Regions from separate parts of the Homo sapiens genome. Here all the other regions are linked to region 1. The links come from fine-mapping of genetic effects on gene expression. A gene starts in region 1. Each other region holds a variant in brackets. All regions are shown on one strand. Distances are between the middles of the regions. Region 1 holds the start of TRIM7 (tripartite motif containing 7). Region 2 holds the start of OR2V1 (olfactory receptor family 2 subfamily V member 1). Region 3 has its middle 28 kb from the start of TRIM52-AS1.

Evidence for each region.
Region 2: its variant is fine-mapped to the expression of TRIM7 in lung (TOPMed, PIP above 0.99).
Region 3: its variant is fine-mapped to the expression of TRIM7 in aorta (GTEx, PIP above 0.99).

Annotation. Positions count from the first base shown.
Region 1 is chr5:181,200,625-181,208,800 of GRCh38, reverse strand. TRIM7 (tripartite motif containing 7) reads left to right here and starts at 3,605. Exons shown (of 7, transcript NM_203293.3): 1 at 3,605-4,212; 2 at 5,161-5,256. The coding sequence starts at 3,691. TRIM7-AS1 (TRIM7 antisense RNA 1) reads right to left here. Exons shown (of 2, transcript XR_001743050.3): 1 at 7,785-8,176; 2 at 5,684-6,213. It overlaps TRA-TGC3-1 (tRNA-Ala (anticodon TGC) 3-1), which reads right to left and starts at 1,933; the gene lies at 1,862-1,933. TRK-CTT2-2 (tRNA-Lys (anticodon CTT) 2-2) reads right to left here and starts at 1,046; the gene lies at 974-1,046. RefSeq lists enhancers at 693-782, 1,163-1,222 and silencers at 1,923-2,022, 3,327-3,646, 3,907-4,236, 4,277-4,346, 6,158-6,452.
Region 2 is chr5:181,129,163-181,137,338 of GRCh38, reverse strand. OR2V1 (olfactory receptor family 2 subfamily V member 1) reads left to right here and starts at 6,170. Exons shown (of 4, transcript NM_001258283.2): 1 at 6,170-6,289; 2 at 7,124-7,166; 3 at 7,764-7,819. RefSeq lists an enhancer at 6,883-7,384. The variant A/CCA (reference allele first, on the strand shown) is at 4,323.
Region 3 is chr5:181,285,373-181,293,548 of GRCh38, reverse strand. No RefSeq gene overlaps it. Among named protein-coding and RNA genes, the nearest start is that of TRIM52-AS1, 28 kb to the right of the region's middle. The variant T/C (reference allele first, on the strand shown) is at 4,554.

The DNA of each region.
Region 1 (8,176 bases):
TTGTATTTTTTTTTCAGTAGAAACGGGGTTTCACCGTGTTAGCCAGGATGGTCTCGATCTCATGACCTCGTGATCCGCCCGCCTCGGCCTCCCAAAGTGCTGGGATTACAGGCGTGAGCCACCGCGCCAGGTCGAAAGATGTTTTTTAAAGCTCATTTGTGATGTAGCCTCTGTGGAAAATGGTATGACACTTCCGCAAAAACAGAAATGCCGTATGACCTAGTAATTTCACTTTGTGATGTATACTCTAAAAAAATAGAAAGCCTAAACTCAAACAGATATCTGTACACTCATGTTCATAGCTGCATTATCCACGGTAGCCAAAAGGAGGAAGGAACCAAGTGTCCATTGGCAGATGAATGGATAATGTGGTATATATGTGCAATGGAATGCTAATCAGCTTTAAAAGGAAGGAAATTTTGACACATGCTACAATAAGGATGAATCTTGAAGACATTAAGTGAAATAAGACAATTTAAAAAGGAAATATAAGGATGAATCTTGAAGACATTAAGTGAAATAAGACAATTTAAAAAGGAAATATTGCACGATTCATCTTATATGAGGTATCTAGAGGAGTCAAATTCAAAGACACAGAAAGTAGAATGGTGGTTGCCAGCGTCTGTGGGCAGAGGGGAATGGAGAGTTAATGCTGAATGGGTTCAGAGTTTCATCTGGGAAACAGGAAAAAGGACTGGAGACTGATGCACAACCATTTAAATGTATTTAATGCTACAGAACTGTACAGTTAAAAAGTGTTAAATTTTGTTGGGCATATTTTACCACAGCTTTAAATCCTAATTGTATCGCAAGATAATGGGTAGATAATGAACAGTGGAGCGCCCGCAAGAGTATTACACACACAGAAATGCAAGACTTCAGAGCAGATTATTTTCCTAAGAGCTGGTCTACTTATAATATATTTTTAGGTATGGCTAGTAGTCGTAGATTTAGGACTAAAACGACCAGTTGCCGCCCAACGTGGGGCTCGAACCCACGACCCTGAGATTAAGAGTCTCATGCTCTACCGACTGAGCTAGCCGGGCGCCCGATGACCGTATCTCAACAATTTTTCATTCTAGATCAGAGTCGGAGTGTATTCAACTGCGGGTTTGAACTTGGATTTATTTGGAGTGTGATAAAACTACTAAAGTGCCTCGGCTCCTGGGAAATTCAAACTCTGCCGTCAGTGCCTGACCGTCCCTCCCACTTACGTCCGTTTCCTGCCCCTTCTACCCTACCAGCGACCAAGCCATTTTCTACCCGCGATGAAGCTCACGGCACGGAGATGGAGAAACGTGCACCCTGACGCCACTGGAGCTCTCACCGTGTGGATTTTTTTTTTTTTTTTTTTTTTGACAGAGAAGACTCTCAAAAAATGGGCCTACCTTTCACCACGAACTGCGGCTCTGTCGCCCAGGCTGGAGTGTCGTGGCGCAATCTCGGTTCACTGCAACCTCTGCCTCCTGGATTCAAGCACTTCTCCTGCCTCAGCCTCCTGAGTAGCTGGGATTACAGGCGTGTGCCACCACTCCCGGCTAATTTTTGTATTTTTAGTAGAGACGGGGCTTCTCCATGTTAGTCAGGCTGGCCTCAAACTCCTGACCTCGTGATCCACCCGCCTCGGCCTCCCAAAGTGCTGGGATTACAGACGTGAGCTACCTCACCCGGTCAAGTACCGTGTGGATTTTAAAACAGGAGGGAAAGACAATGGGGCCCAGAGGAGGGCAGGGGCCGCCGCGGTCTTTTTCTACTCCGCAGACTCCACCCTCTGGGTTTTTTCTTGGAGCTCTTCAAACATGCTGGATTTCAAAATTTGAAAGGAAAATCGAAAACAATAATTGAATGTGCAAAACTACACTGGAGATGCCGGGGATCGAACCCGGGGCCTCATACATGCAAAGCATGCGCTCTACCACTGAGCTACATCCCCACCTACTCTCAGCAGCTCTCCCAGATGGTCCCTATTGGTCGCTTAACTCAGGACACCGGGAGTGGAAGGCAACCGGTACGCGCTGGGTCTCAGCCGCTGCAAAAACCCGGCATCGCAGGGCAAGAGTTGTTCCAGCGTCCTCCGCTGACTCCAAACCAGCGGGTCTTGACCAAGGGATTCCAAGAGAGAGGATTAGGCCCGGCTAAGCACCTGGGAGCAGCTGTGGAAAAAGGAGAGACAATCATCAGGCACGATGCCAAAAATGAACTGTGACCTGAAAAAGAGAAGAAAGGAAAATTGTGCAGGATGCTACGTTTTGTTTTTTAAAAGTGGGGGTTGAGGCAATAAAATACGGAATATTTGATTAACGTAATCCAGAATTGTAAAGTTGATTGCTCGGGAGGAAGAAAGGACTGGGACACAGGCGATGGGCCTACTTTCCACCGTGAACTGCGGCTCCTCTTTTGAATTTCGAACCAAGTTTAATCCAAGAAAACCTTACTGAGCTTGCCAAGAACTGCTCTAAAAACAGGATTCAGCCGTGAACAAACCTAGTACAGTCCATCTGAAAGCTGACATTCCAGAGGAGATAGAGTGCGGGCACAGAGCCGGCCCTGAGAAGGGAGCGCGCTAAGAGACGACTTTACACAGTGTGCGCGTTCGGGGCGGGCTTCGTGGGCAGAGACGTTTGAAACAAGACCTGAATGAGGTGGGAGGGAGCATGCAGGTGGTGGGAGAAAAGAGGTCCACGCAAGGGGAACAGCCAGCGCAGAGGCCACGGGGTTCAGGAACAGCAAGAAGATCGGGGACACTGGGTCCTGGAAGGCCCTGAGAAGGGAAGTCGGGAAGGAGGGAGCATCCGGGGGCAGATGAGGTGAGGCGAGGTCTTCGCCTTTGGGTGAGAATTGCTGAAGTTCCCGGTGACATTGGCAAGGGCGGTTTCTGAGGAGGGTGCGGGCGAAAGCTTGATCCAAGTGGCCTCCAGAGTGAGCGAGGAGAGAGGGTGTGGAAGCGGATAACACAGGCAGCTCTGCTGCGGGGCTGTGGAGACAGCTGGGGGACAAGAGAGCGCTGAGGTTTGTGTGTGTGTGTGTGTGTGTGTGTGTGTGTGCGGTGGGGGGGGAATAATACTGAATACAATGGGAAATTATAAATGTGTTATCTGTTCAAATACTAAGTAAAGAGTAAAGAAGCCGGAGGACAGTCGCAGAAAAGGTAATGGAATGGATACAAGGCCACGCTTGCGCGTGAGGGGACAGGACCAGGTTCCAGTCTCTAAATTTAACTCAGCACAGGGCCGGGGCGAACCTGCGCTGGCGGAACCTGACACCGTGGCCCGAGCGCCAGGCCCTTGCCCCGGCGATGCTGGGTCGGCCTCGGTCGGAAACCGGGAGTGGCGCTGGCAGCATTTGTGCGCCCACCTGTCGCGGCCCGTTTCCCGCGGCTGACTGGGTCAGGCTGGGGCGGCCTGGAGAGTCTGAGGGACGGGGGCGAGGGGGAGAGGCCGCTGGCCAGGGCGGGGGCTGGTGGAGCGCAGATCCGGGGCGCAGGGCGCTGTCCCGCACTTGAATGGCCCGTAGTCAACGTGCGCCTCCCCTCCCGGCTCCCAGCCGGGCGCGCCCCGGGCTCGAGTCTCTGCCTGCCCAGTGGCAGCCCCGCCCTTCCTCTCCCAGTGGGCCCTCGGCGCCCAGCTCCGCGTCCTGTGAGGTCCAGTGGCCGCCCAGGCGCGACCAGATCTGGGTGCGCGGAGAGCGCGCATGGCGGCTGTGGGACCGCGGACCGGCCCCGGAACCGGCGCCGAGGCTCTAGCGCTGGCGGCAGAGCTGCAGGGCGAGGCGACGTGCTCCATCTGCCTAGAGCTCTTTCGTGAGCCGGTGTCCGTCGAGTGCGGCCACAGCTTCTGCCGCGCCTGCATAGGGCGCTGCTGGGAGCGCCCGGGCGCGGGGTCTGTTGGGGCCGCCACCCGCGCGCCCCCCTTCCCACTGCCCTGTCCGCAGTGCCGCGAGCCCGCGCGCCCCAGTCAGCTGCGGCCCAACCGGCAGCTGGCGGCAGTGGCCACGCTCCTGCGGCGCTTCAGCCTGCCCGCGGCTGCCCCGGGAGAGCACGGGTCTCAGGCGGCCGCGGCCCGGGCAGCGGCTGCCCGCTGCGGGCAGCATGGCGAACCCTTCAAGCTCTACTGCCAGGACGACGGACGCGCCATCTGCGTGGTGTGCGACCGCGCCCGCGAGCACCGCGAGCACGCCGTGCTGCCGCTGGACGAGGCGGTGCAGGAGGCCAAGGTGAGCGCAGCCCCCACCCACCCCGTGGGTCCCCGGGACCCCCTGACTTGGTCCCGCGCTCCCGCGCACGGGGTGCAGAGAACAGCCTGTCGATCAGGAGGCCCGGGTGAGCCCCTCCCTTCTTTCTCCATTCCAGGAAGCCCAGCGCTGGTTCCCGGGCTGAGCGCGGTTCTCTGTCACCCCCAACATCACCAATACCCCCACCCCACCCCCACTGCGTTTCCCTCTGGGCCAGATACTGGGCCGCCTGCGCGACGTCCCCCACGGACTTGGCGATGTTCTTCCTGTCTGTTCGGAGCCTCTAGCCTGGTCTGCGTCTCCGCAGCTCTCTGCCCGCGGGAAGTCTCCGGCACAGCCACGCAGCCGCTGCCCCCACTCTTATCTCTTTCCCCGAAGCGGGCTCTGCTCAAAGTCCCCACCTCGTGGAACTGAGTGAGAGGACCTCGCCAAGATGTCCAGGGAGGGGGCTCCCGGGTTAAGCCGCGCACCTAGAGCCGTCTGACTGTGCCAACGCTGTCGATTCTGGGGGCCCTTTCTTTGCTATTTTCTCGCTGAGCCTCAGCGAGGGTGTGTGCAGGGGTGAGGGCGGGGCGGGGAGGCTCGGGCGGCAGTCCCCAGTCTCTCCTTGCTGGCCCATCCTGCTCCAACTCTCCCAGCCACGGGGCTTCCTGGTGGGGGGGCGGAGAGTAGAGGAGACGACTAGGGGTAGGGCTGCCGGAGCTTGTGTTTCAGTCTGGCTGGTCCAGCAGATGCTTTTGGGGAAGCAAGATCCCGAGACCTTCAGAGTCACCTCGCAGTGTAACCTGTAGCCTGTAGAGATGACTTCTACCCGGCCTCCCCCTCAGTGAGCAGGGCCTTCCCTTTCTCCTGGCTGGCTCCAGGAAGGCAGAGGTGGGGGTTTCCAGAAGCCCCTCACCCCCACCTTACATTGTTTCCCTTCATCTACAGGAGCTCTTGGAGTCCAGGCTGAGGGTCTTGAAGAAGGAACTGGAGGACTGTGAGGTGTTCCGGTCCACGGAAAAGAAGGAGAGCAAGGAGCTGCTGGTGAGCCAGGCACCCGCAGGCCCCCCGTGGGACATTACAGAGGCCTGAGAACTCAGCACCAGGGCTCGGTGTGTGTGGTGTTGGAGTGTGTGCTATGGAACCGCAGAATCGATTTCAGAAAGATAATAGAGTCCATATTATATAGGGTGTCCACATAATTGTTGTACAAACCAGAGCTTTTTAAAGTGAAAAGCAGTGCTAAAATAATTATTGCAAAACAACTGGCTTAAACTGGAGCTGTCCCAGCGAATCAGGACGCTCAGTCACTCTGATATTACGTAACATACCAGTTAGGGCCTGCGGAAGCATCTTGTAATGGAACACATTACTATTTCTGCAGAGAAACATGGATATTCAATAAGTGGGAATATTAATACAATAAAGAGCCTCATGGCATGTTTTGTCAACAAAACAGTAGTGAAAAAAATTTCATGTTCACAGTGTTTTTATTTGAAATCGAGGCTAACGGAGAAGGGGCTAGAGGGCGTCAGAGCTGCTCCCTGGCTCTGGCAGAGGGAGGAAGTTTAGGGTCTTGGGTTTACAGTAGCCCCTGCTGCACAGCCCAGGGTCTTGGGTACTGGCACCTGCCTCTACCCCAAGTTGGAATGATATTTTATCTTCCTTAGGGTAGAACAGGAAAGTGAAACGAGGGCTCATTTTGGTTAAGATAAGCAAACATGAGGCCTGGCAGGGTGGCTCACGCCTGTAATCCCAGCACTTTGGGAGGCCGAGGTGGGCGGATCACGAGGTCAGGAGATCAAGACCGTCCTGGCAAACACGGTGAAACCCCTGTCTCTACTAAAAATACAAAATAGCCGGGCGTGGTGGCGGGCGCCTGTAGTCCCAGCTACTCCGGAGGCTGAGGCAGGAGAATGGTGTGAACCCGGGAGGCAGAGCTTGCAGTGAGCCGAGATCGCGCCACTGCACTCCAGCCTGGGAGACAGAGCGAGACTCCACCTTAAAAAAAAAAAAAAAGATAAGCAAACATGAATCACCATCGGTCATTTTCTACCTTGCAAATTCAGTTCCTAGCTCAGTAAATAGGTGTTGAAAGAATAAAAGGATTGGCTGGGTGCGGTGGCTTACGCCCGTAATCCCAGCACTTTGGGAGGTCGAGGTGGGCGGATCACCTGAGGTTGGGAATTCCAGACCAGCCTGACCAACATGGAGCAACCCCATCTCTACTTAAAATACAAAATTAGCCTGCCGTGGTGGCACATGCCTGTAATCCCAGCTACTCGGGAGGCTGAGGCAGGAGAATCACTTGAACCCGGGAGGTAGAGGTTGCGGTCAGCCAAGATCATGCCACTGCACTCCAGCCTGGGCAACGAGAGTGAAACTCCATCTCAAAAAAAAAAAAAAAAAAGAATGAAAGGATCTACTAGGACCTGTCAAGGCAGGGAATTGAAGGAAGGTGAACTAGAGGACCCTCCCATCCTCAATGTCAGGAGGGGTGGAGGAGGAGCCTGGAGTTCAGACACCCTAGGGTCCTTTCCAGACCCTCAACTATATCTGTTATGCCTGCACCCAGTGTGCATCCCAGACCTTCCTACCTCATCACTCACTTTCCTCCATGAGGAAGAGCTCACCCTCTAGACCTTCATCCCTCCTCCACTGGAGAAATGACTCCCAATGCAGCTCTTCCCCCACTGGTTGACATCCAGGAACCAGAGGGCCTTCCCTGGCACCGGCGGCAGCTTCACAGTCTCTGACCGGAGTCCCCAGGCCTTGCTTAACACCTTCCACCTCTGTCCTCTCCCAACATCCATCCATCCACCCCCACATTCGTTTTTGTTGTTGTTTTGTTTTGCTTTGCTTTTAGACAGAGTCTCACTTTGTCACAAAGGCTGGAGTCGTTCAAGCGATCCCCCCACTTCAGCCTCCTGAGTAGCTGGGACTACAGGTGTGCACTACTACACCCGGCTAATTTTTAATTTATTTTTTGTAGAGCTGGGGTTGGGGGTAGTCTCCTGTGTTGCCCAGGCTGGTCTGGAACTCGTGGGCTCAAGCAACCTTCTCCCCTGACTTTGCCCCCCTCAGCCTCCCAAAGTGCTGAGATGACAGGTGTGAGCTCTACCTGTTCTTTGCAGCAATAAAATACTTCTGGATTTATGACACTTGTCTCATTTACAATACCCTGCTTAATGAAACATCAGAGGTAGAGCCCAACTATTGCTGCAACACAAAAGGGAGAAGGAATGCTCTTATTTGAAAATGCTCCTACCCCAGGGGACATCTGGCAAAGTCTGGAGATACTATATTTTTGGTTGTCAACAATGGGATAGGGATGCTATTGGCATTTCGTGGTAGAGGCCAGAGGGGCGGCTAAATGTCCTACAAGGCACAGGGCAGCCCCCTACAACCAAGAAGTATCTGGCCCAAAATGTCAACTGTGTTAAGGTTGGGAAACCCTGGCTTAGAGTATTTTGGCAAATACTGTTTCACTTGTGCTACCTCCTTGTGAGGCAACTGGCCGAGAAGCCTGGCTTAACACTTCCTGGTGATGTGTCTGTCTTTTGTCTCCTCACCTGTAAGACTTGAAGGGAAGTGCACCCTCCCCACTGGGCTGCCGTCAGGGTTGAGGGAGTTAATATCCATAAGGCGCTCCAGGCTACTGCAGCCTGCCTGGAAGCTGAAGGAAAGGTGGGGGCATTGTAGGACACCTTGAACCCAGGTCTCCCAACTTCACAGGACTCCCTTCCTCCGCCCAGGAGTTTTAAGGAAGAGGAACTTCCTGGTGGGACATATTGAGTGCCAAACGTGTGTTCACATAAAAAATCAAGAGATCAGGGCATGAGTCTGCATCTGAAAACTCGAGTAAAAAATCCGGTGTATGCTGTTAATGGAAAGAACAGAATATGACACTTGCATGCCGCATATTCTCACTTCGTTCCTTGGGGGTGTGCTGCTACCTCTGGTC
Region 2 (8,176 bases), 71 kb after region 1:
TATTTTAGTTACCTTGTTCTAAAATAACTAAGACAATTGTGCTAAAATCTCACATTATTTTTGTGAACTTGTCTATTTCCACTTTTTTTTTTTTTTTTGAGACGGAGTCTCGCTGTGTCGCCCAGGCTGGAGTGCAGTGGCGCGATCTCAGCTCACTGCAAGCTCCGTCTCCCGGGTTCACGCCATTCTCTTGCCTCAGCCTCCCGAGTAGCTGGGACTACAGGCGCCCCCCACCACACCGGCTAATTTTTTGTATTTTTAGTACAGACAGGGTTTCACTGTGTTAGCCAGGATGGTCTCGATCTCCTGACCTTGTGATCTGCACACCTCAACCTTCCAAAGTGCTGGGATTATAGGCGTGAGCCCCCGTGTCTGGCCTATTTCCACTTTTAGTTCCGTCAAATTTCCCTTTGTATATTTGAGGTTATATATGTACATGTGTATATACATATTGTTGCTGTATCTTCTTGGAGGGTTGATCCTTTTGTGAAATACCTTTTCTTCCAGTTTAGCTTAATGCTTTTACGTCTGCTTTGCCTGAATTTAGCATTGACTTCATCACATTTGTTGTTATTGTTGGCTGGGTATGTATTTGTCCCTCCTTTTGTTTTATACCTGTTAATATCCTAAATTTTAAGAGCAAATATTAATATTTTTTAAAAAATTGAGCCTGATATCTTCATCTCTTTTTTTTTTTGAGATGGAGTCACGCCTGATTACAGGCATGAGCCACTGTGCCTGGCCCATCTCTTATTTGATGTATTTAGTCCATTTACATTTAATGTACATGTAATGTCTGGATCAGTTTGCCAGGGCTAACTTATCATAGTACCACAGACGAAGTGGCTTAAACAATAGAAATTTATTTTCTCAGAAGGAAACAAGTCAATTTGGATTAGGGCCCACCCTAAGAGCCTCATTTTAATTTAATCACCTCCATTACACCCATCACCAAATATAGTCACATTTGGAGGTACTGAGGATTAGGGCTTCAATATATAAATTTTGAGGGATATAATTAAGCTCATACCAATATCTGATATATTTAGGTTTAAATCCATAATCTTACTATTTGATTTTTACTTGTCCTACTTTGCTTATCTTTCTCTCCCTGCCTTTTTTGGGGGCACTTAGGAGAGGAACTAAGAAAGTGATATTTGGTCAGGTGCGGTGGCTCATGCCTGTCATCTCAGCACTTTGGAAGGTCGAAGCAGGAGGATGACTTGACTCTAGGAGTTTGAGACCAGCTTGGCTAACATGGTGAAACCCCCTCTCTACTTAAAATACAAAAATTAGCTGGGCGGTGATGCAGGCCTATAATCCCAGCTACTCAGGAAGCTGAGGCAGGAGAATCACTTGAGTCCAGGAGGCGGAGGTTGCAGTGAGCTGAGATTGTACCACTGCACTCACTCCAGCCTGGGTGACAGAGCGAGACTCTGTCTCAAAGAAAAAAAGTGGTATTTGCCATTTATTTCTTCTTTCTCTAATAACTTAGTTATTTTCTTTATTCTTTAAGTGGCGACCTGGAAATTACAAGCCACATACCTCACTTACTGGTGCCTCATATAAAGATGTATTTTTGCTACTTCCTGGCTTTCACGAGGACCTTAGAACGCGTTAGTTCCCCACCACTCCGCCTTCTTTGTCGTTGTTTTTATGCAGTTAGATTCTACACATATCTCAAACCCCACGCAGCCTCACTAACCTGATTTGATATTGTCAATATGCAGATGGATTCACTCACACATTTACCCTTTCTGTTGTTCTCCAGACCCCTCTTTGCATGTCCATCCTCTGGGATCATTTTCCTTCTGCTTCTGCTTGTAGAATTCCTTTTAGGGTTTTGTATTTTGCTCTTTGTTTTGGTTCCTTTTTTCATTTTTGTGGTTTTGTTTTGTTTTGGTGCAAATCTTCTGACAGAAAATACTCTAAAAGTTTTTGTTTGCATGAATTCATCTTTATTTGCCTTCATCTTAAAATAATATTTCTGTTGGAACTATAATTCTATGTGGGCAGTAATTTTATTCCAAGACGTTAAGGGTGCCATGTTAGCTTTCATCACTGTTGTGTGTGTGTGTGTGTGTGTGTGTGTGTTGAAAAGCCTGCTGTTAGTCTTCTTGTTGCAGTGTGTGTGTGTGTGTGTGTGTGTTGAAAAGCCTGCTGTTAGTCTTCTTGTTGCACTTTTTAATGTACTTTGTTTTTTCTTCTGGATACTGCTAACACTTTTCTGTTTGTTTTGCTTCTCAGCTGTAATGCTGTGGTGAGCCTAGCTTGGACTTCTTTGTATTCTTCTTGCTATTAGTTAACAGAGTTTCTTAATCTGTGACTTGATCTCTTTCATCACTTTAAAAAATTGCTCCACCCATATTTTTTTCTTTCTTTTCTTTCTTTTTTTTTTTAATTGAGACAGGGTCTCACTCTTTTGCCCAGGCTGGAGTGCAGTGACACAATCTTGGCTCACTGCAGCCTCAGCCTCCTGTGCTTAAGTGATCCTCCTGCCTCAGTCTCCCAAGCAGCTGGGTCCACAGGTGCCCACCACTGCACCTGGCTAATTTTTAAATTTTTTGTAGAGATGGGGTCTCTCTATTTTGCCCAGGCTGGTCTCCAACTCCTGGCCTCAAGTGATCCTCATGCCTTGGCCTCCCAAAGTGCTGAGATTACAGGCATCAGCCATGAGACCTGGCTTTTACCACCCCTCGGCTTCCATCTATATCTTTTAAAAATATTGTTTCCATCCTGTTCTTTCCTGCCCCTCTACTTTTGGGACTCCAGCAGCACTGAAGTGAGACCTTGCTATGCCCGTGTGTTTCTCACCCTCCCTTCCATGGTTTGTATTCTCTTCTCTCTGTGTTTCAGCCTTGGTTTTGTCTGTTGACCTCTTACTCAGTTCACTAACTATCTGTGTCTAAACTATTGCCAAATCTATCTATTGAGTTGTTTATTTAGTTTTTGATACTTTCAGTTCTAGAGTTTCGTTTTATTCTTTTCAAAGGTTACAGGTGTCTGGTGAAATTATCCGTCTTGGTTTTTTTCTCTCGAGCATCGTGATAACAGTTAATTTAAAGCTCATGAATGGCAACGCCAGTCTGGATCTCCTTTAAGTTTGTTTCTTTTTTGTCTTTTTGAATTTGGTCATTTTATCCTGTCCCTAGAATGCCTGGTAATTTTTTCTTGAATGGCAGACAAATGATGCGAATAATCTGAAGCTGTGGGTAATATCCTTTTCTTCTAGAGAAGATTTACCGTTCCTTATGTGGGGCAGCTAGATGAGCAGCTGGTTTCCTTAAGCCAGTCTGTGGCTGATGCGTGTGAACCTGTGGCTGATCCGCGTGAAGCTGGGTTCAGTCTTTGTGAGAATTCTCTATTTCTGATTAATAATTACTCTTAGTGTGTAGTGTTCCTGGGGTCCTAGCTGGAGGTCAGGGTGTTTTTGAGGTCTCTAAACCCAATTTCTTCCCTCCCAGATCTGTGAGATGACAAGAGGCTTCGCTCAGCTTCCCAGCCTCTGGGCCCTGTGCCAGGGATGAGTCAGCAAATGCCTGGAGAGGAAAAGCACCACCCAATGTCCAGCTCAGCCGAGAACACATCCCCGGGTCTCAGACCCTTGAGTCGTGGCTGTTTCCGCATCTTTATAATCACTTATAAAATATTTCATTTTTAGATTTTATCCAATTTCTCCAATTGTTCTTATCATGAAAGTTGTTCTTATACAAACTAGTCCACAGTGGCTGAAATTTTTTTACTTTTTGATATAATTTTGATTTTTAATTGTATGAAACATGTACTGAAGTCCAATTATAAAATAAAGCACACTTACAGATGTGTAGTTTTAGCGAGGAGTGGCGGCTCTTGCCTGTAATCCCAGCACTTTGGGAGGCTGAGGAGGGTGACTGCTTGAAGCCAGAAGTTTGAGACCAGCCTGGGCAACATAGCAAGACTCATCTCTACAAAAAATTAAAGAATCACCCGGGTGTGGTGGCATGCTCCTGGGGTCCTAGCTGCTCAGGGGCTGAGGCAGGAGGATCTCTGGAGCTCAGGAGAGTGCCCTTGCCTCAGGAGTTGGAGGCTGCAGTGAGCCATGTTGGCACTGCTGCACTCCAGCCTGGGCCACAGAGCAAGACCCTGTCTCTTAAAAGAAAAAAAAAACCTAGTTTCTGTCTCTGTCTCGTACACACATTTCTTCCCTCCTGCTATGTGGAACCGTATTTATTAGTTTGCAATTATCCTTTTATAGTTGATTTTGAAAATGTAAAAAACAACCTTGTCCATAGATTTCCTCCTTTCTCACGGCAGAAGCAGCAGGCTGTGTTCTGTTCTGCACC[A/CCA]TGCTTTTTCCCTCCTTACCTCCTGAAGATCCCTCCAGTGTAGAAGAAGAAACACTTGATGTTCTTTTTACAGTCGTACGGCACTCTGTTATGTGGATACATTACAGTTTACTCAACCAGTGTGGAGTGACCTTCCAGGTTCTTGTTATAGAGCATTTTAGACACACCTAAAACCTGGAAGCATCGTATAATGAACTTCTCTGCACTCACCACCCGGTGCTGGCAATTGGCAGCTCAGGGTCAACACCGTTCCGTCTACTCCCCACCCACCTCTCCCTCTCCCCTTCACAACTGGATTATCTACAAATAAGTTTCAGAAATCACATAGTTTCCTCAGTAAATACATCAGTAAGTTTCTCTAAAATATCAAGAATAAAACATAATAATAGGATGAGCATTTAAGAAGAATTCTTAACAGAGAAACATCAATAATGACATTTCCTGGACATTTATGTGACAGCTGCTGCTTTCATTTTAGTACAAAAATTAGGGGAGGTTGAAAATTTGAATGTCCTAGACAATAATTTTTTTTTTTGAGACAGGGTCTGGCTCTGTTGCCCAGGCTGAAGTGCAGGGGTGTGATCTCAGCTCACTGCAGCCCTGACCTCATGGGCTTAAATGATCCTCCCACCTCAGCCTCCAGAGTAGCTGGGACCACAGACACGCACCACCGTGCCAGATTAAACATTTTTAAATTAAGATACTCATGTAAAAGACAGTGCTTCTATTTATGCAGGGCAGTTCTCCAAATAAATCAGTTCAGACATCCTAGTAACTTATTTGAGAAAAACGGACATTTCAAAGAGTATCCCCACCTCCCTTAAAATCTGAAAGGACACATAATATGATTGCTGTTAGCAGACTCTTCTCCCTTCTCTACTGTGGGACTCCAAGCCCCAAGTTAGTCTTGATTTAGGCTGTGTCAAGGGGACCAACACTGAATTGAATGTGAGATTCAAATTTTGATTTTCAATGGACTGGATTTTAGAATATATAAATGAGCCTTCGTCTTACCACCCAAAGTCACCAGAAAACTCTTGATCTGCATGAGATGTCATGAAGATGTGGAGAATGAATTGTGATGTCTTATTTAAAAGCAGTGGCTGTACAAAAATAAAAGTGTTTCCTTGTTTGCACATGATCAAAAGTTCCCCCTGAATAATACGATAAAAGGCAATACAAGAGCTGTCAGCAGGCCATGGACATACGCTGCCAGAGTGTAGACAGGAAGCCATGGCCGGCGGAGGTCATGGTGGATTGAGTTCCGGAGGAATCTGAATGGAGGTGGGCTTGAGCTCGGTCTTGGGGAATTAGATAAGGCTGAAGAGTAACAGAGGAAGAAGACAGAGGAAGTGCCGGTGGGGAGAAGTGGCTGGAGAAAAAGTGTGAGTGTGGAAAGCGTTGGGTGCATAGGAGGATAGAGGAGAAGGCCGGTGTGGGAGAGGAGTGGGAGACGCTGCAGGTCCAGTCCTCAAAAGCCAGCCTGCCCCACTCCAGCTGCGAGGTGGCCATTCCCTTCCTCCCTAGTCTACCTCTCTCTGCCCCGGTCTTCCTGTGTCTCCCTCATGGCCTCCTCGCCTGCATGTTCCTCAGACTCCTGCCATAGCTGGAAGCTGGATCAGGAAGAGGGCACACACCAAAAGTGTGGTAGCAAAGACACACAAGGAAGTCGAGATTCAGAAGGAACAAACGCCTCTGGTGTCTGAGCCATGTGGCAAGGGGATTTCAAGCACATTGGCCCCTGAGAAAATGGCCTGCTTCCATGGGACATAAATAGCCACAGAGTGACCATAAAATGCATCCTCCGATGTGAAATGCTCTTGAGAGTAAAAGGCAGTGGCAGCATCAGAACCGTGGACTTCAGCCCCATCCCCAGCAGCCCACGAAGACACTGACCCTGCAGAAACGCCTGTCAGGTTTATGAGGATCCCAACCAGGCCCCCAGGCTCCACCCGACTCTCGTGAAGGTGGGGCTGTTCTTTCCCTCCCACGAGGCTGTAGACCCCTTGAGCAAGGACTGTGTCCAGAGCCCCCCACCCAGTGCTTTGCATGTCACGGGTGATGTAGGCTGACTTAATGGGGGCAGGTGAAGGACAGGTGTGGGGTGCAGCGAGGGCCCAAGGGACAGCTGTGACATGGAGACCCCATGAGGGCCCTGGAGGTCGCTGGGAAGTGCTGATGTGTGTGTGGGGGGGCAATGTAGGGCACCAAGAATGTCCTCCGCATTCCTGTATTCCTCTGCCCTGCGTTCCTCCTCCCCCAGCTGGGTTTCCTCACGCTGTCCCCACTGGCCCTGCTCCTGTTCCTGTCCCCAGGTCCCTCTGTGGGTCTTTTTAATTGTAATCTTGGGAGCACCTCTTCCAGGGCTGGAGTCTGTGGGGTCCCCTGGGAGCTGAGGTCTGAAGTCAGCTTCCCCTCTTCACCCCGTGTCTGGGTTCAGTACCTGTGTGGGCAGTGGGAGGCGGTTCTGCCACCTGGCCAGAGCCAGGGTGTCCTGGAGGCAGGTGGGAATCCTGGGTGGGCTCAGGGCACTGCTCCTGGCTCCACCTCTCCTGCCAGCACCAGCTCCTTCCCTGAGCCTGTTTCTCCCTCTGAGAGGAGGCTGTGGTCTGTGTGAGCCTTGCTCTCTGAGCCTGAGGGGCCACTGGAGGCTGAGGGTGCCGTGGGCTCCACAACCCGATGAGTAGTCGGTGCGGGCTGAGGAAGGAGGTTGGGGCTGCGGCTCCTCCTGTCCCCCGACCCAGTGGGAGCAAACACAGGAGGATGAGTGCATGGCTCTGACGCTAGGAACTCCTCCACAGGTGACTCTGCTGAGTTTGTTCCCCTGCAGGGACCCACCCACAGGTGAGTGAGGGTCTTGTCCTGTCGTCCCCTCTCTCTTCCCTGCAGCTCCTGCTCCCATTGCTGGTTCACGTCCCCATTTATCTTGTTCATCAGCACTTGCTCTTCCTCCTGCTGTCTGCCTCCATCAGGGTGTAACTGTTTCGTGTGGGTGTTTGGAGGGGCATCCGTCTTCTGGTGTGATGTTTCTCCTCACTCTTTCTTCTCGTTCTCTTCCTTTGACCCACCTCTCTCTCTTTCCTTGGTGTCCTACTCCCCTTTTCCCGTCCCCCTCCCTCTGTCTGGGTTGGAGACTGGGCTCTAGGTCCCTGGGGTGGAGGATGGTCCACAGCAGGAAGACAAGGACAGATGTGTGGGGAGTGCGAAGGTGAAGGAGCAGGAAGGAGGGGGCTGATGTGGGACGGGGTCCTCCCGTGCCGGGGAGAATATTGCAGAGATGCAGTGGCTTCTTCTATGTTGTGGTTTCTAGGAAGAAAAGTGAAGCCATTAACTAAACACCCAACGGAAAGGTCTGAAATTAGAGAGCAGGAAGATAAGCCAGTGAGAGGCAAGAATAAATTCTGTTGTGTTTCATAATACAATTTTTTTTTTCTGAGACAGGATCTTGCCGTCTGTGTCCTGAGAGGCACAAGTGGCTGGTGCCTCTGAACATGGTGGTAAGGCTGGGAGACCGTTCTTCTGCTGGGGCATCTGGTGTATTTTGCTGGTTGATATGGCTGAGAGGGTGCTTGGTCGCTGTGGGAACAGATTTGCTCCTGTAGAAACCCCCTCCAAATCACACAATGTCATAGCTCTATCATTCAGGCTGGAGTGCAGTGGTGTGATCGTAGCTCACTGCAGCCTCAAATTCCTAGGCTCAAGTGATCTGCCTCAGTCTTCCAAGTAACTGGAACTACAGGTGCACACCACCACGCCCAGGTAATGTTTTATTTTATTTTTATTTTGGAGACAAAGCTCGCTCTGTCACCCAGGCTGGAGTGCAGTGGCGTGAACATAGATCACTGCCAGCTTGA
Region 3 (8,176 bases), 85 kb before region 1:
CACGCCACTGCATTCCAGCCTGGGCAAGAGAGCAAGATTCTGTCTCCATCAATCAATCAATAAAAATATAAGGAGGAAGCATTTACTGTGTATTTATATGTCTGGTATTATGTGAAGCACTTTACTATCTTATCAAATCTTCGGGACAGATCTTCAGTTCTCATGACCACAAAAGAGGATACTAAAGCTCAGACAGGAGAAGAGACGTGGCCAGCCTGTGTCCCCAGGGCCTATGGTCTTACCACTAGGTTACAGTGTTTCCAGATATCACATGTTGTGAGATTTTTGCTTTAAAATGAACCAAAAAAAAACCAAAGGTGAAAAAGGCATAAGCTATTAAAAAGTGGGAGAAACACTAAGAGAACCTTAAGCATGTAACTAAAAATATTATGGAAATGTTATTGAATTCATTAGCAAATTTAGTGCTAGGTTTTCATTGAGGAGTAGGTTATATTACTCATGATGAAGAAAAATGTTCATTTTAAGTATATTAACATAAATACCATCAATATTGTTTATCATGTTTAAATGTTCACTTAAAGCAATTCAGTTAAAATTCTGCATATCATACAATTTTATAGTTTGCTAGTAGGTTACAAGTAAATAGTCACCCAAATAAAAACATCACGTTTTCCACTGGTTGTTGCTCTTTTTTAGGTGAGTATTTGATGTATACCAACAGAGAGAGGATAATAACAAATCGCTAATTTCTTTCATCACTATATAAAGGTGGCTTCAGGATAGAATAGTAGCAGGGCAATGATGAATTTGAAATCTAACATCAATTCAGTGATGCATCAAGATAAAAGTAGAGACAATAGGGGCACCTTGGAGAGTACTGAACATTTTATTTATTTATTTATTTTGAGATGGAGTTTTGCTCTTTTTGCCCAGGCTAGAGTGCAATGGTGCAACCTCGGCTCACCGCAACCTCTGCCTCCTGGGTTCAAGCGATTCTCCTGCCTTGGCCTCCCGAATAGCTGGGATTACAGACATGCGCCACCACACCCGTCTAATTTTGTATTTTTAGTAGAGACGGGGTTTCTCCATGTTGGTCAGGCTGGTCTCGAACTCCCGACCTAGATATCTGCCTGCCTTGGCCTCCCAAAGTGCTGGGATTACAGGTGTGAGCCACCGCACCCGGATGAATTCCAAATTTAACAAAACAGACTAAGAGAAACAATTCATTTAAAAAAATAATATTTGGCCAGGCATGGCGGCTCACACCTGTAATCCCAGCACTTTGGGAGGCTGAGGTGAGTGGATCAGGAGGTCAGCAGTTCAAGACCAGCCTAGCCAAGATCATGAAACCCCATCTCTACTAAAAATACAAAAATCAGCCAGGCATGGTGGCTGGTGCCTGTAATCCTAGCTGCTCGGGAGGCTGAGGCAGAGAACTGCTTGAACCCGGGAGGCGGAGGTTGCAGAGAGCCGAGATCGTGCCACTGCACTCCAGCCTGGGCGACAGAGTGAGGCTCTGTCTCAAAAAAAATAAATAAATAATTCAATGAAATCCCTAAGATTCAGGGCTTTGCAATAAATATGTAAATAAATTTCCAATCTCCATACTGAAAGTTTAAAAGAAATGCTAACTAATAACTAAAGAAATACAACTTTTCCTCAGCTTTGCAGCAATCTAGAAACAAAGTGTGTAGACACTACAAAGCACCTTACAAGGAGAAACGTGTAAGGATGGCATGACTCGCCGGCAGCCCTGGGCTTGTCCACGGTACCCCCATGATGAACAGTAACTCCATTGTGTAAACGCCCATGAACATAAGATTACAGGACTTTTCCAGTTTAGACATACCATATTTTCTTTCAGACAATTCTTCAGTTTGTTTACATAGATCAGCGATACGATGATTCCATTTCTCTGAAAATCAAGCAAAAGTTGCTTCTCAATAATACGTCCCTATGTCAGAGCAGCACTAACGTATAATGACTGATTTCATATATTTTACATTCTAACAGTCCATATCATTTTACTGCTTTCAAGAAAAAATTTCCCCTTTTTGGTGGTTCTTAGAATGGTTTAATGGGAGACTATTAGAGAAGCTGAAAAGCAGGAGGGCAGAGAAGTTCAATCAAATTAAACACAATAACAGGGAGGTCACAATGAGGCGGTCTCCAGGGGTCTTTTAGCAAACTTCCTAAAACATGTCTCAGCTGTGTGAAATAAGACTTTACAGCAGCCGGGTGCAGTGGTGCAGGCCTGTAATCCCAGCACTTTGGCAGCAGAGGCAGGCGGATCACTTTGAGCTCAGGGCAACATAGCCAAAAGCCCCCTCCCTAGCCCCACCCCCACCCCGTCCCTACCAAAAATACAAAACAGCAGGGCATGGTGGCGGGCGCCTGTAGTCCCAGCTACTCAGGAGGCTGAGGCAGGAGAATCACCTGAACCCAGGAGGCAGACATTGCAGTGAGCCAAGATCACGCCACTGCCAGCCTGGATGACAGAGCAAGACTCCACCTCAAAAAAAAACAAAAACAAAAACACAAGGTTAAGAGGGACCCCCGACCTTACAGATACAAGTTTAAGAGGGACCTCTAAGCAAAAAATGCCAACCCTTTTTCTCCCAATCACTGAAACACCAGGAGGGTGTAACAGTTTTGCAGCCTAGCTGTAGCAGGCTGATGCCCCCCAGATGCCCATATCCTAATCCCGGGAACTGGTGAACATGACCTTATATGGCAAAAGGGGCTTTGCAGATATAATGAAGTTAAGGGTCTTTGGCTTTTGGGGTTGATGTACTCACTCGGATCCTTGTAAGAGCAGAGCAGGTGATGGAGAGGGTGGGAGGTGTAGTGACAGAAGCAGGAAACTCCAGTCATTCAAGACGGGCAGCACAAGCTGAGGAGTGCAGGCCACCTCTACGGCCAGGAAACAGATTCTCCCGCAGAGCCTCAGAAGCCACCAACCCTGCTCCCACCTTGACTCAGAAGGACTTACTGTAGAATTCTGGCCTTCAGACTTGTAAGGGAATACATTTTGGTTGTTTTAAGTCACTAAGTGTGTGGTAATTTGTTGCAGCAGCCACAGGAAACTAGTATTGTAGTGAAGCCTCAAAACCCCCCTGAAGGGGCTGGGCTCAGTGGCTCATGCCTGTAATCCCAGCACTTTGGGAGGCCGAGGTGGGTGGATCACTTGAGGTCAGGAGTTCGAGACCAGCCCAGCCAACATGGTGAAATGCCATCTATACAAAAAATACAAAAACTAGCCGGGCATGGTGGCACATGCCTGTAATCTCAGCTACTCAGGAGGCTGAGACAGGAGAATTGTTTGAACCCAGGGGGGCGGAGGTTGCAGTGAACTGAGATTCCACCACTGCACTCCAGCCTGGGTGACAGAGCGACGCTCCATCTCGAAAACAAAACAAAACAAAAAAACCCCACCTGAAGGTTTCCAGTTCTGCCAGCAGTCTCCCACCCAACCCCCAGAAGCAGACATTCCATTGCTGTGGGCCATGGACAGGCAGAAGGAAGCACCTCCTCATGGCAGAGGCCTACCCAGGAGAAACCCAAGGGAAGGCACTGCTGGGCTGGCCCCTCTCTGCCAAGGCCATATTCTTTTTTTTTTTTGAGGCCAGTTTCACTCTGTCTCCCAGACTGGAGTGCAGGGGCACAATCTCGGCTCACTTCGACCTCTGCCTCCCCAGTTCAAGTGATTCTCCTGCCTCAGTCTCCTGAGTAGCTGGGATTACAGGAGTGTAGCATGCCTAGCTAATTTTTGTATTTCTAGTAGAGATGTGGTTTTGCCATGTTGCCCAGGCTGGACTCGAACTCCTTGCCTCAAGTAGTCCACCTGTCTCAGCCCCGCAAAGTGCTGGTATTACAGGAGTGAGCCACTGCACCCAGCATTTGCCAAGACCTTTGATGGCAGGCTTTTTCCAGGTGATCAGTCCTTGTCTGGTCTGGCTCTGCCCCACTCTCCTTCTCACCTAGTTGGAATCCCTAGCTACTTTTCAGTAGAGGAGAGTGTGTACCCCAATCCCAGCTTGGTTCAGATCTGCATTTAACTCATGGAACCTGGCTGCTCCCCAGGTCCTGAAGGAAAAAACGGTCTCTCTGTGCGTATGATAAAGGATGGGCCTGTCCCCAGGACCCTGTGAGAGGGAAGCCCAATGTCCCACCAGGTTGGCAGGGCTGGGGAAGGGAAAGTGTTATGGCAGCCCCAAGAAAAAAAAGAGGCAGCAGAGGGAGCAGGACAGCGCTCACATGGAACTCATGCCACTGCCTGAATGAGGGGAGGGAGGAGTGCACGCCAGTGACGTCAGGGGGCAGAGAGGCGCAGTTCCAGGGCGGCTTTCCCCCTCACTTCCTGCCATGTTACTCTGATCGCCTCCAGGTGAGCCTGCCCACTTTGTGCCCAGGGGCCTGTAGAAAACCACAGCTCCCCATGGTTATGGCCCCAGGAGTGGGGCAGAGCAGGGAGGAGTCCTGGACAGAGGAGAGGCAGGGGCAGGAGGGAGTGGGCCTCAAACTCCAGGAGGGGGCCCTTCTCATGGGTCCTGCTTTCTGGCTTCTCCTTCCTTACACCTGGGCTGATCACT[T/C]GGGGAAGAACTGAGACAAAGTTTCTCACCCTCAGGCCCAAAGGGTTTAATTACTGGGCCCTTAGGGAGGTGTGAGCCCCCTGAAAGGATGCAAGGTTTTGTTTTGTTTTGTTTTTTGAGACAGAGTTTCGCTCCTGTCGCCCAGGCTGGAGTGCAGTGGCGTGATCTCACCACACTACAACCTGCGCCTCCCAGGTTCAAGTGATTCTCCTGCCTCAGCCTCCTGAGTAGCCGGGATTACAGGTGCCTGCCACCAGGCCCAGCTAACTTTTTGTATTTTTAGTAGAGATGGGGTTTCACCATACTGGCCAGGCTGATCTCAAACTTCTGACCTCGTGATCCACCCCACCTCAGCCTCCCCAAGTGCTGGGATTACAGGTGTGAGCCACCATGCCCGGCCCCAAATTATCTTTTAATTTTAAAGACATACATATTGTTTAAACAAGTCAATAAATAACTATATTGAATAACAAAGTGAAGCCTTCCCTTTACCACAATCAACCTACTGTTCTCTCTCTATCTGAGGCTCTCTTCCTACGTTCCACTGTCCCAGACTTCTGCAAAGTATTTATGTATCTATTTAGGTATCTGTCCATCTTTCCATTCCTTTCTCAATTATATATTCTGGTGGTTTCGCTCTCCACGTGGCAACTCTACATCCAGGATCAAAACGGCATCAAAGGAAGCTTGGAACAGTGACAACCCCTACCTGAGATGTCTCATTCCAGGGGCAAGGCTGCCTGGTGCCTGATACCCATGAGATTAGGAAAAGCAGGTGGGGTCCTGTCCACCCCTTCTATTCCCGAACGCTTGGCAGAGTTCCTGTGGCTAACATGCCAGTTGTATCAACTTCTGCGCAGTCTCATGTGAAGTGCCACACTACGTTCTCAGCCTGGGAGGTTTCAGGGCTCAGCTGGCTCAGATCCCATGTGTGGGGAGCATTAAGAAAAATATGTCACCTGTATAAGACTAGTGGCAAAAATCTGACTCAGTGCTACTTCTCTGTTTGTCCTTTACTTAAAAGGTGAACCATAATTAAAATGATCCAGAAAAGAGAACCAAGCAGGAAACTGAGTTGCTTGGGGAAAGGACCATGCTGCATTGATTTTTACATACCCAATGCCAGCAGTGCATCAGGTACACAACAGGTTCTCAATAAATTGTTAAATGGGTAAGTTGATAGAATAAAAAACAAGGTCTCTTCCCAGTGCTGCATGCAGAAAAGCTCAGTTAGAGTGAATTCTTATTTGCAGAGATGAGAGATTTTTAGTCTTCTGATGGCTGTTTCCTCCTCTCTGTTTTCTTTGCCACAGTTTAGGGGCAAAGAAAAGTTTCTCTCTCTCTGAAATGGTAGGAGAAACCCTTGGGGCTTAGCTAACAAATCAGGCTCTCTCTTTCACATGTTGTGAGAATAGAAATATTTAACCATCAGCACAGACAATGTCATTTGCATAAGGGAGTGACTTCCTGGCTGAGAGATGGTCAGAATAACATACAGCCTAGGAGTGAAGGCAGTGAAGTTTGCGAGCCTAGGGCTCTGGTTCTGGTGTCTGCTTCATGGCTGTGTGATCTTGGGCAAGTTTCCTAAATGCTCTGCTTCTAAGTTTTGTCATCCATAAAATGATAACAACAGTACCTGCCTCAAATAGTGTGTGGAAGAGGCTTAAACAAGCTAATGTAAGTCAAATCTTGAGCACAATCCCTGGTGTAGCTATACATGTTTGTGTATATATCAGAAGCTCGAAATTATACCATTAGTATTAAGAACATACTCTGGACCCTCATTATGCTGCTATTCTCAATATCCCAACACTTGATTTCTATTGACAACTCCTAGGCTCAACTGTTCCGCCCACCTCAGCCTCCCAAGTAGCTGGGAATACAGCCACCACACCTGGCTAATTTTTAATTTTTTTTGGTAGAGACAGGGTCTTGCTATGTTGCCCAGGCTGGTCTCAAACTCCTGGCCTCAAGAAATCCTCCCACCTGGGCCTCCCCAAGTGCTAGGATTTACAGGCATGAGCCACCATGCCCAGCTCCCTTCCTCCCCTTTGCTCTCCTAACTCCATCTCAGCATCCGCCCCTGAGGACAAATGCAACAGGGCAATCAGTACATCCATGAACTTCCCATCAGTCCTGTGGTGGACTAACCCAGGGACAATGGTCACTGTCCCCTCTGGTGCATTCTTTGTCCCCATCAGCCTAGTAAGCTCCGGGGCTGGCAGCTGGCACAGAGTAGGAGGCTGCACTCCCTGACCTTTCTATGCTACACACAGTCCTGTGTCCATCCTGTCCTCAGACCTGCCAGGGCCATGACCAACCTGCCAAGAGTGTGGGAATTGGTATGTGACCCAGCTCTAGGAGGAGGTGGAGCAAGCAAATATAGGGGAAGCTGCTCCCCCAGTAGGTTTAGAGGGAGAGTGGGGTGGGGGCGCAGCAGGGCCAGGCGGGTTAGGGTGTGTGGGTGACATTGTGCAGGTGAGGGTGTGCGGGTGGGGGTGTGTGGGTGGGGGTGTGTGGGTGAGGGTATGAGTGCCTGTCTGGCTCTCCTGGGTGGGGCTGGATGAATGTTTGGGCACAGGCAGCGGCTGTCACATGGCCTGGCTGTGGGTTTGAGACAGAAGCCAGGCAGGTGGGCTGTGTCAGGCACAGCTACAAACTGTGCCAAGGAAGCGGACCAGAGCAGGGGCCCAGGGAAACCTCTGCCTTAGCAGAAGATACTGGGGAGACAGGATCAATCGGGGAGGTCTTCCAAGGCACATGGTGCTTCATGGAGCCAGGGCCCAGGACAGGGAGGGCTGTAACCCTGGCTTGCCTGATTGGCTGAGCACAGACAGAAGAGGGTGTGGGCAGCCCGCCAGGTGGATGCCTAAGTGAGGAAGGAATGGGTGGCCAGGTGACTGAGACCGCCAAGACCAGGACCCCACTGTCAGGCCTGTGGCTTCCCAACGCCTGTGGGAAGTGTTCCCCTTTGGACACTGAGGCCATCGGCTTCAGCTTCACACCCTTTTCCAGACAAAGACCCTCAGGTAACCTCAAAAGTCACTTCTGGCCTTCCCCAGAGGGGAAAGGAGAGGGGTGCCTGTGGGCAGGTGACCCTCAGTGCTGGTGGAGGGCACAGCAGAGAGACTGCCTGCATATGGGAGGCCCCCAGCAGACCTTGCCCAGACATCAACCCTCGTTTGAGGCAAACTGTAAAATTATCACAATTTAGGCCAGGTGCAGTGGCCTATGCCTGTAATCCCAGCACTTTGGAAAGCCATGGCAGAAGGACTGTCTGAGCCTGCAGTGAGCTATGACTACACCCCTGCACTTCAACCTGGTCAACAGAGGAAGACACTGTATCTAAAATAAATAGGCTTGGCGTGGTGGCTCACACCTGTAACCCCAACACTTTGGGAGGCCGAGGCAGGTGGATCACCTGAGGTAAGTAGTTCGAGACCAGCATGACCAATATGGTGAAACCTCATCTCTACTAAAGACACAAAAATTAGCCGGTCGTGGTGGACCGTGCCTGTAATCCCAGCTACTCAGGAGGCTGAGGCAGGAGAAATAGTTTGAACCCAGGAGGCAGAGGTTGCAGTAAGCCAAGGTCGCGCCACTGCACTCCAGCCTGGGCGACA